2 linked regions of the Homo sapiens genome follow. The protein of the gene in region 2 interacts with the protein of the main gene of each other region in a pairwise test. Each region holds a gene or a part of one and is shown on either strand. Other genes may lie near its edges.

The links.
Region 1: the proteins of NME6 (region 2) and RCC1L interact in binary tests that used the Homo sapiens proteins (3 or more experiments, as listed by UniProt).

The regions. Positions count from the first base shown.
Region 1 is NC_000007.14:75,048,559-75,057,309, forward strand, and holds part of RCC1L (RCC1-like G exchanging factor-like protein), read right to left. Parts: intron 8,167-8,751; coding exon of another isoform or gene 8,147-8,166; exon of another isoform or gene 7,955-8,146; intron 7,517-7,954; coding exon 7,343-7,516; intron 4,239-7,342; coding exon 4,153-4,238; intron 1-4,152. UniProt on the Homo sapiens protein: Guanine nucleotide exchange factor (GEF) for mitochondrial dynamin-related GTPase OPA1. Activates OPA1, by exchanging bound GDP for free GTP, and drives OPA1 and MFN1-dependent mitochondrial fusion. Plays an essential role in mitochondrial ribosome biogenesis.
Region 2 is NC_000003.12:48,297,368-48,306,259, reverse strand, and holds the start of NME6 (nucleoside diphosphate kinase 6), read left to right. Parts: upstream 1-4,892; 5' UTR 4,893-4,907; exon of another isoform or gene 4,908-4,947; coding exon of another isoform or gene 4,948-4,964; exon of another isoform or gene 4,965-4,990; intron 4,991-5,625; coding exon of another isoform or gene 5,626-5,733; intron 5,734-5,739; exon of another isoform or gene 5,740-5,829; intron 5,830-7,736; coding exon of another isoform or gene 7,737-7,743; coding exon 7,744-7,833; intron 7,834-8,892. UniProt on the Homo sapiens protein: Major role in the synthesis of nucleoside triphosphates other than ATP. The ATP gamma phosphate is transferred to the NDP beta phosphate via a ping-pong mechanism, using a phosphorylated active-site intermediate. Inhibitor of p53-induced apoptosis.

The sequences.
Region 1 (8,751 bases), on a different chromosome or scaffold from region 2:
GAGGATGAGAGAGAATGGACATCACGTGCCCAGCACGCTGTCCATGCCCTGCCCTCCCCCGAAGCCAGGCTGGAATGTTTGTCTGTGGAAAGCCAGGGCGCTCCCTGGGGGATGAGGGGTGAAGGCCACTCCACACCCCCTCGCTGCCTGCTGTAGGTCTGTGGCACTCCCCCTTAGGTCAGAGGGTCTTGGAAGGCCAGACAACGCCTGGTCAAATGTTCCGTGCCACTGCGTGCTGCCTTCTCTCCACACCAGCTTCAGGCTCGCCCAGGGAGGTGGGTGGCCGTGGAAAGACCATTGTCTTAAAAGTCAGATGTAACTGAGTCCAAATCCTGGCTCTGACTCCAACTTAGATATGTGACCCTGGGAAACCACTGAACCTCTCTGAGGGATGAGTCTCAACGTGTAGCAAAAAAACATGTCCTGGAAAGTTTCTGGAAGCAGAGGTTTGAATCAGGTGGCTCAGATGTCACCTCCCGGGCCCACATACTCAGAAAAGGCCAAATTCTGCAAGTCTAAGAATAACTAGTTGGTACCAGTGTATGAGCTACAAGTAAAGTTTTACTCTTTTTTTCTCTTCTTTTCTGGAATACTTTTTAAATGATGTAATATATCCCCTACGGAAGATTAATTTGAACATAGTTGTTTTAAAGAATAAAGATCACCCAAGCCAGTGACTCACCCCTGTAGTTCCAACATTTTGTGAGGCCAAGGTGGGAAGACCACTTGAGGCAGAAGTTTGAGACCAGCCTGGGCAACATAGGAAGACCTCATCTCTCAAATAAATAAAATAAAACAAATAAATATAAATAATAAAATAAGCCGTGTGTGGTGGCACATGCCTGTAATCTCAGCTATTCCAGAGGCTGAAGCAAGAGGATCACTTGAGACCAGGAGGTTGAGATCAACACATAAGACCCCGTCTCTTAAAAAAAAAACGAAAAAAAAATTATTTGGGTGTGGTGCTGGCACATGCCTGTCATCCCATCCCACATCTCAGTTACTTGTGGGGCTGAGGCAGGAGGATAGCTTGAGCCTGGGAGTTTGAGGCTGCAGTGAGTGTGATCACACCATACTCCAGCCTGGGCGACAAAGCAAGACCCTGTTTTCAAAAAAAAAAAAAAATCCTGGGCAACACGGCAAGACCCCATCTCTACAAAAAATACAAAAATTAGCAAGGTGTGGTTGTGCAAGCCTGTAATCCCAGCTACTCGGGAGGCTGAGATAGGAGGATCACTTGAACCTGGGAGACAGAGGCTGCAGTGAGCCGAGATCCTGTCACCACACTCCAGCTTGGGTGACAGAGCAAGACCCTGTCTAAAAGAACAAACAAACAAAACAAAGAAAAGAAAAATCACTTGTAATTTTTTTTTTAAGTGAGTCATCAGAAGGGACTGGACTCTCCCACCCCAATCCAAAGAGGACAGGGGTCGAGGCCACTCCGTGCACAAACCCTTAGGGGCTCCCTGAATGTGCAAGAGGAAGGACAATGGTTTGGCGCCAAATGCCGCCGTCACGGGGACAGGCTGGGGTGCTCTTTTCCCAAAGGCACAAATGTGTTTAAAAAGCAAATGATAGCCAGGCGTCGTGGCATGCACCTGTAATCCCAGCTACCAGGGAGGCTGAGGAAGGAGAATCACTTGAACCCGGAAGGTGGAGGTTTCAGTGAGCTGAGATCATGCCACTGCACTCAAGCCTGGGCAACAGAGCAAGACTCCATCTCAAAACAATAATAATAAAATAAAAATAAAAATAAAAAGCAAATGACCAGAAGGACACTTGGTGTGTGGCGAGCCAGGGCAAGTGACCCAGATGGAATGTCAACGGGATCGGGCTCCGGCCACTCCCTGCCCGCACAGGGACCAGCGCTTTGCACATGCCCTTATGGCAGGGGCAACGTGACCTGAGTCAAATCTCAGGCTGATCACTCTGATTTGAAGGAAATGAGGGCGGGGGGCAGACCCTCGTCAGCGTTCTTTCACCCAAAACCCGGCTGCTTTAACTGTTTCCCAAGTTCCCCCCTCAGAAGGAAGTCCTTTTCGAAAGAAAGGGCAAAGTGAGAGAAGAGAGGAGTCAGTGAGAAAGCAAGTGGGCATGTAGATGACTGATGCTCACATTATCTGAGCCACACCCACTGCCCGACTCTCTGTTCCTCACACCGGCAGTTTCCAGGCTCAGGAGAAAGCCGGCAAGCCCCACCACCTTGGGAACAACTCTATTATACAAACAGCTTTCCAACAAGGCTAAAGTCGCCCGGGCGTGATGGGTCATGCCTGTAATCCCAGCACTTTGGGAAGCTGAGGGAGGCAGATTGCTTGAAGCCGGAAGTTTGAGACCAGCCTGGGCAACATAGTGAGACTCCCATCTCTACTAAAAATAAAAAAATTTGTCAGGTGTGGTGGTGTACGCCTGTGGTCCCAGCTATTCAGGAGGCTGAGGTGGGAGGATCACCTGAGCCCAGGAAGGTCAAGGCTGCAGTGAGCTGTGATCACATCACTGCAATCCAGCCTGAGTGATAAAAGTGAGACCCTGTCTCATAATAAGCAAAAACAAAAAAACAAAGTTAAAGTCTCCATTTCAACTTGCTTTCTCAGAGCCTCCACCGATAGTCTTGGAAAAAATATATATATATATATATTTAATATATATAAACGTATAATATAAATGTATTATATATGTATATATATTTATATGTGTGTGTGTATATATACACACATATATACACACACATATAAATACATACATATATATATACACACATATATACACACACACACACATATATATACACACACACATATATATACACACATATATATATACACACATATATATATACACATTTCTTTTGCAAGTCCTTTGTTTTTTTTTGAGACACAGTCTCCCTCTGTTGCCCAGGCTGGAGTGCAGCAGCGTCTGATCTTGGCTCACTGCAACCTCTGCCTCCCGGGTTCAAGTGATTTCCTGCCTCAGCCTCCCAAGTAGCTGGGATTACAGGCGTGTGCCACCATGCCTGGCTAATTTTTGTATTTTTAATAGACATGGGGTTTCATCATGTTGGTCAGACTGGTCTCGAACTCCTGACCTTGTGATCCACCCACCTGGGCCTCCCCAAGCGCTGGGATTACAGGTGTGAGACACCACACCTGGTGCAAGTCCTTTTTAAAAACGCTTTTCACAATTTCAAAACAAATTAAAATCCAACCTTCTGATAAAATACACCCATATGCACACTGCACACACATGTATGTACTCACAGGCACACACACACAAAGCACGCATGCACACCAGTCTCTATGCAGAGACTATCTCTGGAAAGGAACATAAAGAAATCAGGACCAGTGGCTGCCTCTGGAACAAAAACTGGGTGGTGGGAGACTCATTTTCCATAGTGCATTTTTTTGTACCATGAACATATGTTTCATGTTCAAAAAACCCCAAAAACCTCCTTTTTTAGAATGCCTTAAAGAACTGACTTAGTAAACAACACTAAGGTAAACTACAATTTTAGAATGAGCGTCTCTTCCCCTGTAATTCTGGAAGGAGCCTTTTTGTCTAATTGCATACTACCGCCCCTAAGGAAGCGACTTTATTTTTTCACTTCATAGCTGCGGTTGGGCCATCTAAATATTAAACATCCTGCTTTCTTTTAAATTCATTGTGAAGCATTCCCCCACATGGGCTTCTGTAAACAGCTTCTAGCGTGCCAACTTCATCCAATATCTCCCCCTCTCCGGAGCCTCATGGCACCCTACCAGAGCCTTTGCACCATCGTGCCTCTGTTTCCCCGATCCACCCCAAGGATGGCCTCCGACAGGGCTTCTTATAGGACTGGATGCTTGAGTGGGCTACTCCCTCCAACCTCCCAGTCAGTGGGCCGGGATGGGTTGACCCAGCTCCTGCACCCCAAGAAGCCTGGTGTCACTCCCCCACGCATCACACCATGCAGATGCACCACGGGTATCTCATGGGTGTCACCACAGAGTGTGCAATGACATAGCATGCCGCGCTGCAGGAGTGCAGCCAGGACCCGGAAGGGGGAGCAGGTCCCATGGCCCTCGTCCTGGCCCATCTGCACGCGAGGTGTCTGCAGTGACGTCAGGTGACTCTACTCTTAGCATCCATTCTCAAGACCTCCCCGGCCAGCCTTACCCTCCATGGGAAATACTGGTCCTCCAGGCGACCGATTCCCAGGCACCCTCGGATGTTCTTGCCCCATACAAACAGCTCTCCTTTGTCTGCAAAGGGAGGAAAACAGGGGTTGGTTGGGACTGTGTGAAGAACAAGTCTCCAAGGAGAGGATGGGTCATGAGAACAGGCTTTCTAGAACCAGATACCTACAGAGCCCACTGTTCAGCTTTTACCAGGCGTTCATGCTTTCTTTGAAGGCAAAAGTAAGGGTCTGAGATGCTGTCCCCATATCGAAAACACATCCACGGCCAGGACTTCTGCTGCATCCACCCACGTGGGAGATGAGCACTCAAATGAAGATGGGGCAGGGGGCAGTGCACGGGGCTGGGGGTGATGCATGGAGCTGGGGTCTGGGGGTGGTGCACGGGGCTGGGGGTGGTGCATGGAGCTGGGGTCTGGGGGTGGTGGACAGGGCTGGGGGTGGTGCATGGAGCTGGGGTCTGGGGGTGGTGGACAGGGCTGGGGGTAGTGCATGGAGTTGGGGTCTGGGGGTGGTGGACAGGTCTGGGGGTGGTGCATGGAGCTGGGGTCTGGGGGTGGTGCACGGGGCTGGAGGTCACTGATGCACACGGCCCACTCTGCTCACCCCTTGTGCCCCGCCCACAATCGTGTGCCACCAAACTCTGCCTTCCACAAATCCTGGCGACACCCTGGGCTTCCTGATTTGACAGTGAAAAGTAAGACAATTTGTCATTCCTGGATTGATTGTCCATATCTTGGGAGCATTCAGCCACAGGGCATCTAATGACCAAGTGCCTGCTTGTGCTGGGTCTAGGTCTGTGTTCCAGGAGCTGGGGACTGGCCAGAGACGGAACAGACAGATGATTTTAATATATGTTTACAAACTGTAAAAACTGTCATGAAGAAAAAGTACAAGATGCTGTTTAAGAGGTCAACCCAGGAGATGGCCTCTCCTAGCCCGGCCTTCAGGTGGGACTCTGTCTGCACCAGCTGGGGCACTCCTGGGCCCATGTCACCATCAGCTGTTGGGCAAAAGGCTTGGGTCATGGGAGGCAGAGGAAGTGACATGGAAAAGCCAGGACTACAAGACCTGGGGCTGATGAAGTACGGAATAATTACAAGCTGTCTTAGGCCCCTGATCTAAGCATGCCCCTTGTTCTCCACACTCAGACCTTAGATAGTTTTTGTGTGTGTGTGTTTGTTTGCTTTTGAGACAGGGTCTCACTCTGCTGCCCAGGCTGCGACGCAGTGGCACAAACATAGCTCACTGCAGCCTTGAACTCTCAAACTCAAGCAGTCCTTCCACCTCAGCCTCCAGAGTAGCTGGGACTACAGGCGCACACCACCACACCCAGCTAATTTCTGTATTTTTTGTAGAAAAGGGATCTCACTATGTTGCCTAGGCTAGTCTCGAACTCCTGGGCTTTGAGGGATCCTCTCATCTTGGCCTCCCAAAGTGCTGGGATTACAAGCATGAGCCACTGCACCCAGCTAGCCCTTAGGTGTTTAATAGAACAATTCGGCCTGGCTCCCCAAAATGCTAGCAGACCACAGGATAAACCAACCAACTCTAATTCCCAGATGGCTATCTGCAAATGCCAGGCACACAGGCAGGAAGACAGCTAGGCTCTGTCTACCAACAGGCAGTAACTCACCCTTAGAAGGAGGCCTGTTAAGTCTCGGGGAGAAATCCAGAAAGGAATTTCATTTCGCTGTGACCTGAAATGGCTACATGGCATGAGGGCAAATAGAAAAGCCTCTGCTCTAGTCAAATGCTTCACACAGATTTCTAAACATGTGTCTCTGCCCATAGTTGAGGCCTTAAGAACTTTCTGGAAAGTAGATATTTGTTTCCCCCAAAATTAGTCCATACGACTCTTATTTATCAAATCAAAATAGCTTTAAGAATTCATGACACTGAATTAGCCGGGCGTGGTGGTGTGTGCCTGTAATCCCAGCTACTTGGGAGGCTGAGGCAGGAGAATCGTTTGAACTCGGGAGGCGGAGGTTGCAGTGAGCCAAGATCGCGCCATTGCACTCCAGCCTGGGCAACAAGAGTGAGACTCCAACTCAAAAAAAAAGAATTCATGAGACCTACACTCAGCTGCAAATGCAAGTGGCCACTCTGGCTGGGCAGTGGCCAGGAATTCTCTGGCTTAGTCATGACCACTGCCACTTCAGTGCTTCAGCCTAGAGCCAGATAAAACTCCAGCTGGCAGCCATAACAACCCAGGCCTGCCTGTTTGACGGCCTCTGGAGCCTGGAATTCAGACAATAAGTGAATAGCAGTTAGGACCCTGGTACAGAGGGTGAGCATCTGGGACAGGCCCCACGTGGGAATGAGGCCAGAGAACTCAACCAAAGATGACACCAACTGACTGTCCCGGCCTGGATGTTTAAAAAGAAAACAATTACTTGCCATGAGATGAAAAGATTCTTTTAATTGCAAGGAAATAACTAATTTACTTGAGAATCACAGAATGAAATTAATTCAGGACAGTTTTACTATTCGAGTCAACTAAAGAGCAGCAAATTGAACCCACGGTAACTGTGGTGGAGTAAGAGATGTAACCAAGAAAAGGACACATTCCTTACCCTTACCCTGCAGGGTAAGCGGATATTCTGTGGCTTTGTAATCTGGCAGGCCTTTGGGAAAAACCTCCATTTTGCTCTCCCCTTTCATCATTCTCTACCCCGGCACTTTGGAGAAATCGGTAGATTTACCTCCGTGAAACCACGGGACAGTCTGACAAATCGGCCTTTTGCCATCCCATATCCTGGGTCAGATCAGGGTCTGGGCTCGGCCAGGGAATGGGATTAAGCCCCACACATTCACTTCCTAATCACCCACCCATGGATCCGCCAAGCCTCTGCTGGTTTCCTCCAGCACCCGACGTACTAGCAATGCCCCTTCCTACCACCGACGGGTGCTCTCTTGAGAAAATGCACGTTCACGTTAGCCTACCCACAAACCAAACGAACCAAAATTAAAACTCCAGGGGGGGAAAACAAGACATTATACAACCTCGAGGCAAACAACTTCTGGCTTAGCCCTTGCTTGAGTTATCAGTACAAAGGCGCCGTTCTGTTGGATGGGTGGAACCTGAGAGCTGCCCGCAGTTTGGGGTTGAACTGGAGACAGAGAACCTCTGCTGGGCTCACACCAGGGCCACCGGGCTTGGTAACTTACTGGTCAGTGCAGCAAAGTGGCTGAGTCCACATCGGATGCGGGAAACCTGGATTTCTGGGTTGAACTCCGTCAAGCCAAAGAGAGTGGGTGGAATCATTTCAGGGACGGCACTTTCCACTAGGTTTGGACCTTTCCCAAGAATTCCATAGCCCCAGACAAAAACATGTCCTTCTCCTACATTACAGTAAAAACAAGGGTCAGTAAGTCCATCCAAGTAAGAACCTCCCTCACCAGAAACTCAAACTACACCACCAAGGTTTATGACATCCACACGGTTTTTTTTTGTTTTTTTTTTGTTTTGTTTTTTTCCTCCTTGCTTGGCAAGAACATGCAGACAGAGATTTAGAATAATAATTCTCTCTCCCCTGCTTAAATTCTTGCTGGGGGAGTCTGTCTCGCCAGCTCTCCTGGCTCAGAACACAAACTTCCCACATCTTGAGGGTTAGTAACCTGGAAGGGACGAGCGTATAAATCATCCAGAAAACCCATACGAATACCAGAGAATTGGAGGATGTTTTCTCCCCCTAATGACAGCTCTGTGTTTCACACTGATCAGAAGGCCAAACACATCAACAATGTCTGGCCAGATTCTTAAAACTCTTAGAAATGATGTTTTGGTTATAGAAAGTTTAATATTCATCAGTGGTGCCAGATATTTCATCGTTATCCAAAGCTGAAGGCTGTTCTCCCATCTGCCTTTGATTTTTTGGCTGGAGAAGGCAGAGCTGGAGTCTCTCTGGCCCAGGCTAAGGGAGGGGAATGAAGTAGTTCGCTCTCCACTCCAGAGGTTTGCTCTAGGATGACTCAGCTCTGTGGCCATGTATCTACAGATAAATCGCAGACTATTCGCTTTTTGTTAAGAACTTCATTCACACCCTGTAATGCCATCTTCTAATCCAATGCCATCTTCCCATGGCCATAGTCCCTTCCTTTTTTGAAACAGGGTCTCACCGTGTTGCCCAGTGCAGTGGCATGATCATAGCTCACTGCAGCTCGAACTCCTGGGCTCAAGGGACCTTTCTGCCTCAGCCTTCTGAGTAGCTGGGACTACAGGTGTGCACCACCATGCCCAGCTAATTTTTCATTTTTTCTTTTTCTATTGAGACAGAGTCATCCAGGCTGGAGTGCAGTGGCGCAATCTCGGCTCACTACAACCTCTGCCTCCTGGGTCCAAGCAATCCTCCCACCTTAGCCTTCCAAGTACTAGGATTACAAGCATGTACCACCATGTCTGGCTAATTTTTCTATTTTTAGTAGAGTCAGGGTTTCACCACGTTGGCCAGGCTGGTCTTGAACTCCTGACCTCAGGTGATCTGCCTGCCTTGGCCTCCCAAAGTGCTGAGATTACAGGTGTGAGCCACCACACCCAGCCTTCCAGCTAATTTCTCCATTTTTTGGTAGAGACAGGG
Region 2 (8,892 bases):
ATAGAATGTCCATGGAGCTTTTGAAAAGCTCTGGCATATTTCTAGGAATCTAGAAGACCAAGAGCATGAGCAGGTCTGTAATATGTCCAGGAGAATCTTTAGAAGGCCCTATGTGCTCACCTTGGCTGACTTTAATGCTCTAAATAGCAAGAAATGAAGTCTAAAGCAGAGTTGTAAACTGCCTGCCTGACCATTGAAGGCATGGCTCAATACATACAGAATACCTCGGCAAAGGCAGAAAGACTTATTGGTTCCAAGTATTTAAAAACACTATGTCCAATCATTAGATGACCACTAAACTAATGGAACAGAGTCTTCAATGGTTACACACTACCAAGAATACATACTTTAAAAAATTAATTGATAAAAATCACTACACAAATGAATAGCAACAACAAACCTGGGGGAAGGGGAGAATCTGATTTCCAAAGTTGCCACATTATGTTGTTTAAAACATCCAATTTTCAATGAAATATTGTGACACATACAAAGAAACAAGAAAGTCTGGCCCATACACAAGAAAAAAAGATCAGTCAATAGGAATTGTTGCCAAGAAAGCTCCAATGTTGGACTTACTAGACAAAGACTTTAAATCAGCCCAGGCAGGTGACTCATGGCTATAATCCCAACACTTTGGGGGCCTGAGGTGAAAGGATCACTTGAGGCCAGGAATTCAAGACCAGCCTGGACAACATAGTTGTCCTATCTCTACAAAAAAATTAAAAATTATCAGGCATGCTGGCACGTGCCTGTAGTCCTAGCTACTTGGGAAGCTGAGGTGGGAGGATTGATTGCTTGAGCCCAGGAGGTTTAGGCTACAATGAGCTATGATTGTGCCACTGCATTCTAGCCTGGGTAACAGCGAGGCCTTATTAAAAAAAAATACACATACATACATGTATACATATTTTTTCAAAGAGATAAACTATGTCTAAAGAAATAAAGTATAAGAATGATGTGTGAACAAGTAGAGAACATCATAAAGAAATTATTTTTTTAAATATAACTTTCTTGAGGTGATAAGTACAATAACTAAAGTGACAAATTCACTAGAGAGGCTCAATAGCAAAGTTGAACAGGTAGAAGAAAGAACAAGTGAACTTGAAGAAAGATTGACATTAACCAGTGCGAGGAGCAGAAAGAAAAAGGAACAGAGCCCTGGAAGCCTTTGGGATATAATTAAGCATAACAACATAAAGATAATGGTAGTCCAGGAAGGAGAAGGAAGAAAGAAAAGGGCAGAAAGATATTTGAAGAAATAATGACTGAAAATATCTCAAATTTTTCAAAGAATGTTAACATATGCATCCAAGCAACTCAGCAAACTCCAAGTAGGACAAACTCAAAGAAATCCACACCTATACACATCATAATCTCTGTCAAAAGCCAAAGACCAAGAGAGAATTTTGAAAGCAGCAAAAGAGAAGCAAATCATTAAGTACAGATGACCCTCAGTAAGATTAACATCTAGTTTCTCGTCAGAAATCATGGAGGCCAGAAAGCAGTAGGATAACATATTCAAAGTGCTAACAGAAAAAAAACATCAGCCAAGAATTCTATATCCATAAAGAAAATCCTTCAGAAATGAAGAAGAGTGGTGACTCACTCCTGTAATCCCAGCACTTAGGGAGGCTGAGGCGGGTGGATCATCTGAGGTCAGAAGTTCAAGACCAGCCTGGCCAACACAGTGAAACCCTCTCTACTAAATATAATTACAAAATTAGCTGAGTGTGGTGTTGCATGCCTGTAATCCCAGCTGCTTGGGAGGCTGAGGCAGGAGAATTGCTTGAACCTAGGACGCAGAGGTTGCAGTGAGCCAAGATTGCACCATTGCACTCCAGTGTGGGCAACAAGAGCAAAACTCCATCTCAAAAAAAAAAAAAAAGAAAAAAAGAAAAGAAAAGAAAAAAAAAGAAATGAAGGAGAAAGTAAGATGACCAACAAAACTAATAAAAACCGAAATAATTTGTCTCCAGCAGATCCACCCTGCAGGAAATACTAAAGGGAATACTTTAGGCTGAAGCGAAAGGACACTTAAATCCACAAGGGGAAATAAAGAGAACTGGTAGAGGTAACTACACAGTTAAAGACAGTATAAATATATGGTTTTGTTTGTAAATCTTTTATTCTCCTATATGATTTAAAAGACAATTGCATAAAGCAATAGTTAATAATAAATAATAACAGCCAGGCGCAGTGGCTCATGCCTGTAATTCCAGCACTTTGGGAGGCCGAGGCGGGCGATCCATCGCCTGAGGTCAGGAGTTCAAGACCAGCCTGGCCAGCATGGTGAAACCCCATCTCTACTGAAAATACAAAAATCAGCCAGGCGTGGTGGCAGGTGCCTGTAATCCCAGCTACTTAGGAGGCTGAAGCAGGAGAATCGCTTGAACCCGGGAGGCAGAGGTTGCAGTGAGCCAAGATCACGCCATTGCACTCCAGCCTGGGCAACAGAGCGAGACTCTGTCTCAAAATAATAATAATAAATAATAATAACAAATTATACGCTTGATGATGTGTCACAGGTTTCTGAGGCTCTGTTCCTCTTTTTCTAACTTGTTGAGATGGAGGCTTACTGAATTTCCAGTCTTTCTTCTTTTCTAATATATGTATTTTAGGCTACAAATTTCCATCTAAGCAAGGCTTTAGCAGTATCAATTTTTAAAAAATTGTATCTAAGTACAGTATACATACAGAATTCACATAAGCGTAGCATTGAATGAGGCACCTGGTCAGTACTGTTTCTAAGTGTTTAGTAAATGTTTTTTATTACTACTGTGAATTGTCCTTTGCCTCTTATGCCATAGCATCCTGGCAATGGGGAGGGGTTTGAGGGTGGGATGGTGAAGAGATTCTGGGATTCCATTTTATTGGAGCATTTTTTTCCCCTTGCTTCTCATAAGGTGTCTGTCGGGGAGAGATCTGTGTCACTTATTGCAGTTTGTTGCATGCTGGAATGCTGCAGATTCTGGAATGCCATCTGTATCAGTTGTCTGGAATTTGGTTTCACATAAGGTTCTTGTCTTCTGTTTAACTGGTTTGCTGGGACTTCTGAAGTCCTGATGATCATACTGGGAAGGCAGACTCAGGGGTGGCGATGCTGGCTGTGGCCCTCATCTGCTGGGCCATGGTGGTTATTGTGTTGCTTCTTTTGCTGTGTCCTAGAACAGGGGCTTTACTGAGCCACCCATGTCCTCTGAGAGCTTTGCAACTTACAAGGACTGTTCTCTTCCTTCAGGGGCTGGGATGACTTGCTGATTTAAGCCCCTTTGTTGAGATACAGAGGTATTGTCATAATGACTGGGACTTGTGTTGCTCATCTTTGAGGAAGATTTGTTTAGGCTTGCTGTTATCCACCATATCTTTTATTTAGAGTAGTTTGCTGGCTAACTCACTGGGTCCTTTGGCCTACTGCAGATTCAGTTGCTACAACTCCGTCAGTGATTCCGTGTAGGGAGAAGTAATGGGTTGTCATTTTTGGAGTCAGGGTTGGGGGCCTGGGGTTTGAGAATCAGGTCAGAATTCATGGGTTGAGGTTTAGGGATTTGAGGTTGGGATTAGGAGGTTAGAAGATAAGCATCAAGGGCTCAGGATCTAGAGACCAGGTCTAGGATTAAAGGATTATAAATTTAGGGACTAGGGCTTGGGTTAGGATTGGAACTGAGTAGCAGAGGAGTTAAGATTAGAATAGGGGGTGGTGGTCAAGGGTCTAAACAAAAAGAGAAGAGATGCAAGGGTCTGCGGAGAGACTGGAAAAACTTTCCTCGTAAGTTCCCAAAGGTGACTGGGTATCAGGAAACTATTGGGAAGTGGCTTCTTATTGCTGCAGGGACAGAAGCCATGAGTTGGGGATAAACCTTCCAAGAGGGCAACACCTGTGTAGGCAGACACCGAAGTCAGTTAAATGTGCAAGTAAGTCTTTACATTGATGACAGTTATCGTTTATTTTCATTCTTCTCATTCTCAGTGATTTCCCTCAAAAAAAAAAAAAAAAACCCAAGAAACCAAAACACTTTTTTTTTTTTTAACCATCTTTATTCAACCTGTCACCAAGTTTCTGGTCACCTGCCACAGCTGACCCCCGATCCATTCTCCCTGTCCCCATCCTCTCCATACATCACAGTACACACCAGGAATACCCCCAGTTCTCATCTCCTCACCCTGGGCTGCGTCAATAGACTCCAGAGTAACCCAAACCACACCCTGCTGCCCAGATTCCTAATGACACGTGAAAGGCCGTTATGACTTGCTTTCCTCATGCCCTATGCACACCTGGGCTCCAGCCAAGGATCCTCCTTCATCAACCCCCATATTAGCTACGATCCTTCATGCTAATGTATCGCTCAGAGCTCAAAAGACTTTGAAGGGCCTGTGCCTTCGCTATCGAGCGCTTAAGTTCTTTGCCCTCCGCGTACTTTTGACAAATACTGGGCATCAACCATGTTCCAGGAACTACCCTGGGCAAAGAAAATAACTGGGCAAGGTTTCCATCGGTGTCTCTGCTGGCGGGCATCGCCCCCGCCGGGCCGCCACCCTGAACGAGCCCGTCCGGTCCTCTGGGTTCCGCCACCCTGCGTAGCGCTGCGCCAGCACCCGGCCCAGCACTCCCTCCCGCCGAGGGCGCCCAGGCCGGCTTCCGAGGGCGCCCAGGCCGGCTTCCGAGGGGCGGTTCCCACAAGCGAGTTCCGGCGCCCAGAACGGCTTCATCCTCTCGTCCCGTCCGCGGCAAATGCATGCGCCTGGAAAACCCGCCACCCTCCAGGGCAACTCACACCTCACCTCACGCCGCGGCGCAACCGGACTAGGACCCCGAGCAGGGCTGCCCAGGGAGCGCCTGAAGGACCCTGCGAGGGCCGCAGGCTATCCAGCGTGGCGCCTGGTGGCCGGGCCCTGTGCCGGAGGACAAGGTGAACCCGCAGCCGGACTTCTGCTGCACTGGGGCTCCGAATGACCCAGAATCTGGGGTGGGCTTAGGCCCCGGGTACGAGGGGTGAGGGCTGCGCGGTTGCAGGCCTAGAGAAGTAGGGGGCTGGGTCGAGAGTTGAGGCCGTGAGCCCGGGGGGCTGGAGGGCGTGGCCACGGGGGTAGGGGCGCAGGTCCCGGCCGCGCGTGGGTGGACCAGGGCTGGGCCGCCGCCCTCCAGGAAGCGAGTGGTGGCCCCCTCGAGTGCTGGGGTGGCAGTGTACCGACAGCTTTACTTTTTTTTTGTTTTGGAGACGGAGTCTGGTTCTGTCGCCAGGCTGGAGTGCAGTGGCGCGATCTCGGCTCACTGCAGCCTCCGCCTCCAGAGTTCAAGTAATGCTCCTGCCTCAGCCTCCCTAGTAGCTGTGACTGTAGGCGCGCGCCGTTATGCCTGGCTAATTTTTTTGTATTTTTAGTAGAGACGGGCTTTCACCATGTTGGCCAGGATGGTCTTGATCTCCTGACTTCGTGATCCGCCCGCCTCGGTCTTTCAAAGTGCTGGGATTACAGGCGTGAGACACCGCGCCCTGCCTAAAATTTTTAATTCTCATGGAGTCACCTTTAAGTCTAACAGGATTCTCGACTTGTCAGTTTGTTGTAAACCAAGAGTCAAGACAGCCACAACTTAGCTGCGTTAGTAAAGGAACCATGTCCTCCCTACAGGCCGCGTGTTCTTGCCACGAGAACCCCTAGCAGCCTGGCCTTGGAATGGCTGGATGAGGTGCATTCGTTGGTTCATTCAGATACTGTTAAGAGCCAGCTGTGTGCTAGGTACTGCTTACACCTTCTGGTGGTGAAGACGGAACTGAAGGGAACTTGCAAGGAGCTGTGAGAAAGTGTAACGGGAAGTGAGCTAAGATCACTAAGGTGGGCAGGAGGCAACCAGAGAAAGCACATTCAGGACTGCGAAAACTACTCACACAAAGGCTGTCAAGCCAGAAATTCTTTCAAAACTGAAAGGCCCATGAGGTTGGAGCTAGAGAAACTTAAGGAGTGTGGGGTTCCAGATGAGGCTAGAGAGGTACGTGGGGAACCACAAGATCATGCAGAGCCTGGGAGGCCGTGATAAGGATTTTGGTTTTTATTCTAAGAACAGGGTGCCCTTTAAAGGGTTAAGGAGGGGAACCATATGATTAGATTTTCATGTGTGGTTCACTTTGGCTGCTGTGTGGAGATTGTAGAGGTTGGCAGGACAGAAACTGGGAGACCAAAGAGGAGGCTGTCAAGATGTCCAGAGGGGAATGATGATGTCTTAGAGTTATGGTGGTAGCAGTTGAGGATGGGAGAATGGTATGGGTTTTGAGATATATTAGGTAGGGAAAATTGCCAGAAGTTGGTGATCGTGTGGATATGAAGAGTGAGGGAGGGGAGGTGTCATGGATGTCTCTGTAGACAGTTGCTGAAAATGACGTGTTACCACCTGTGGCATTAGGGAGAGTGGGTTAGCTGATCTTGTACTGGTTAGATTGGGTGTGGCTTTATGGTTTGAGTGGAAAATCAGGTTGAAAGCTGTAGAAAGGACATGAATAGGAGCGACCATGGCAGTTTCTTTGCTTGGGCCAGATTCTAATACCACCTTTAACATGATTGACAGTTTTTAGGATAAGATAAATGAGAATGTTGTCTAGACTCTGTCCCTGCCTATGTTAATGGAAGCCTTCTCTGTATTTGTCGACAAATGATTTTATATATATACACACATATATATTATATATATATACACACACACACATACACACATATGTAGTAGAGTCAGGGTCTTGCTTTGTTGCCCAGGTCAAACTCCTGGCCTCAAGTACTGATATTACAGGTGTGAGCCACTACACATGGCCAAATGAGAGATAATATTGAGATAAGATTTTGAGACAAAGTCTTTACTCCTGCAGAGGTGATAAATTTCTCACGTATAACTCGGATTTCACAATTGGAAAAGACCTCAAAATTCCCTTAGTCCAGTTTATAAAATGCTTTTATGTCCATTATATCATTTCTACAATATTGAGCTCTTACACCATGCTAGACATTAGGAATACAAAGATGAATAGAAATAAGACTATATAGGTTTATTTAGTAAATAAAATTGATCAAGCACCTTTGTGTCAGGCACTGTTTCAGATGCAAAATGGTTATGACTTGTTCCTGATGTTGGAGTTGTGTGTTGACCTCAGTGTTACCACTGAGGACAGCTGAGTGTATTAACAGGTTTGATTTGGGCACAGGAGATCCTGATCTCTCCATAATATTAGAATAGAGATGGTGTTTATCCAGCAGACTTTTTGGTATCCTGGTAGCACCTCAGTTGCTGTCCATCAATCTTCCAATTCTAGATTTGATAGGAGAGCACTATGGGATGGAAGATTTTAAGAGATGAATTCATCATTATGAATAGGCCTTGTGGATAGGCTGTTTAGGAGTATAAATTGTAAATCCTCTGTAAAATACAAAAGGAAGTTAGGAAGGGATATTGGCAGAGACAGGTAGTATTTAAACTTGAGTTTCTTTTAATGGGTAATTCCCTCATAGGCTTACAGTTGCACTAGATTGTATACTCCACGGGGGAACTTGAATGCTCCCTCTACAACTCCCCTCCCTTGATCCCATGAGCCCAAATGGGCAATTAAAATAATGTATATGGCCTTAAGATGAAACTGTCAGGTTCTTTATGAGTGTCAGGAGTGAGAGCACTCGTTGGCTTGCAAGGCTGCGTGGCTCCAATGTAGGGAAGGCTGGGAGTGCCGTCCTGAAGGGTTCCTAATACAGCTCTCTAATGGCAGGAGTGAGATGGCCTCAATCTTGCGAAGCCCTCAGGCTCTCCAGCTCACTCTAGCCCTGATCAAGCCTGACGCAGTCGCCCATCCACTGATTCTGGAGGTAAGAATGAATCCTAAGTCTCTACCGCATGCCCTGGGAATTGCTACTGCTTCAGGTGCCATTGGGCCATTTATGGTGACTGACAACACAGACTTGTGCTGGATGCTGTGGAGGCAAAGCTAGAAGCCATGAACTCTGACCTAAGGAGACTAAGAATCCATTGGAGACTTGAGGCAGACCTAAAATGTAAGAAAGGACCCAAAGCAATAATAGAACCGAATATCAAGACAATGTGTATTTGTTAGTTTCTATTGCTACATAACACATTACTCCAGACTTGAGAGCTTAAAACAACACTTATTTGTTATTTCACAGTTCAGTAGTTTAGAGGTCCAGTAGGCTTGGCTGAGTTGTTTGCTTAAGGTCTCACAAGGCCAAAGTCAAGGTATTGGCTGACCAGGTCCTTATCTGGAGGGTCTGGGGGAAGAATTCACTTCCAGACTCATTCAGGTTGTTGGCAGAGTTGATTTCTTATGATGGTAGGACTGAGGCTGCCATTTCCCTGTTGGCCTTCAGGCAGGAACTCCTTTCAGTTTCTAGATACCACTCACATCCCTCATCACATGGCCCAGTCTGTCTTCAAGACAGCTGCAGTGCATTGAATCCTTCTCATGCTTTGAATCTCTCTGACTTCTTCAGCCTCTAGCCAGAGAAAATGCCTGGCATTGAGAAGCCTTCACAATTCTAATCCCACAGGGCTCATGTGATTAATTAGGCCCACCTGGATAATCTCCCTTTTGATTACAGCAGAATCAACTGATTAGTAACCTTAATTTCCCTCAAAATCCCTGTTGTTATGTAATGTAACATAATCATATTGCATCATATTCACAGTCCTGGAGATTAGGGTGGGAAATCTTGGTGGGGCTCGGGGTCATTTTCACATTCTGTGTACCATAGTTTGATAAATACTAACTGAGTAGCACTGCTAAGTAAGCCCACTATGGTGCAGAGGAAGATCTAAGCAGTCAGGAGTGGGGGCCTGGAAGTGGCAGGACTCAGCTGGGCCTCAAAGGAATGGTAAACTTTGGTTAGTGCCAGGAGAAGGACAGGTGTTGC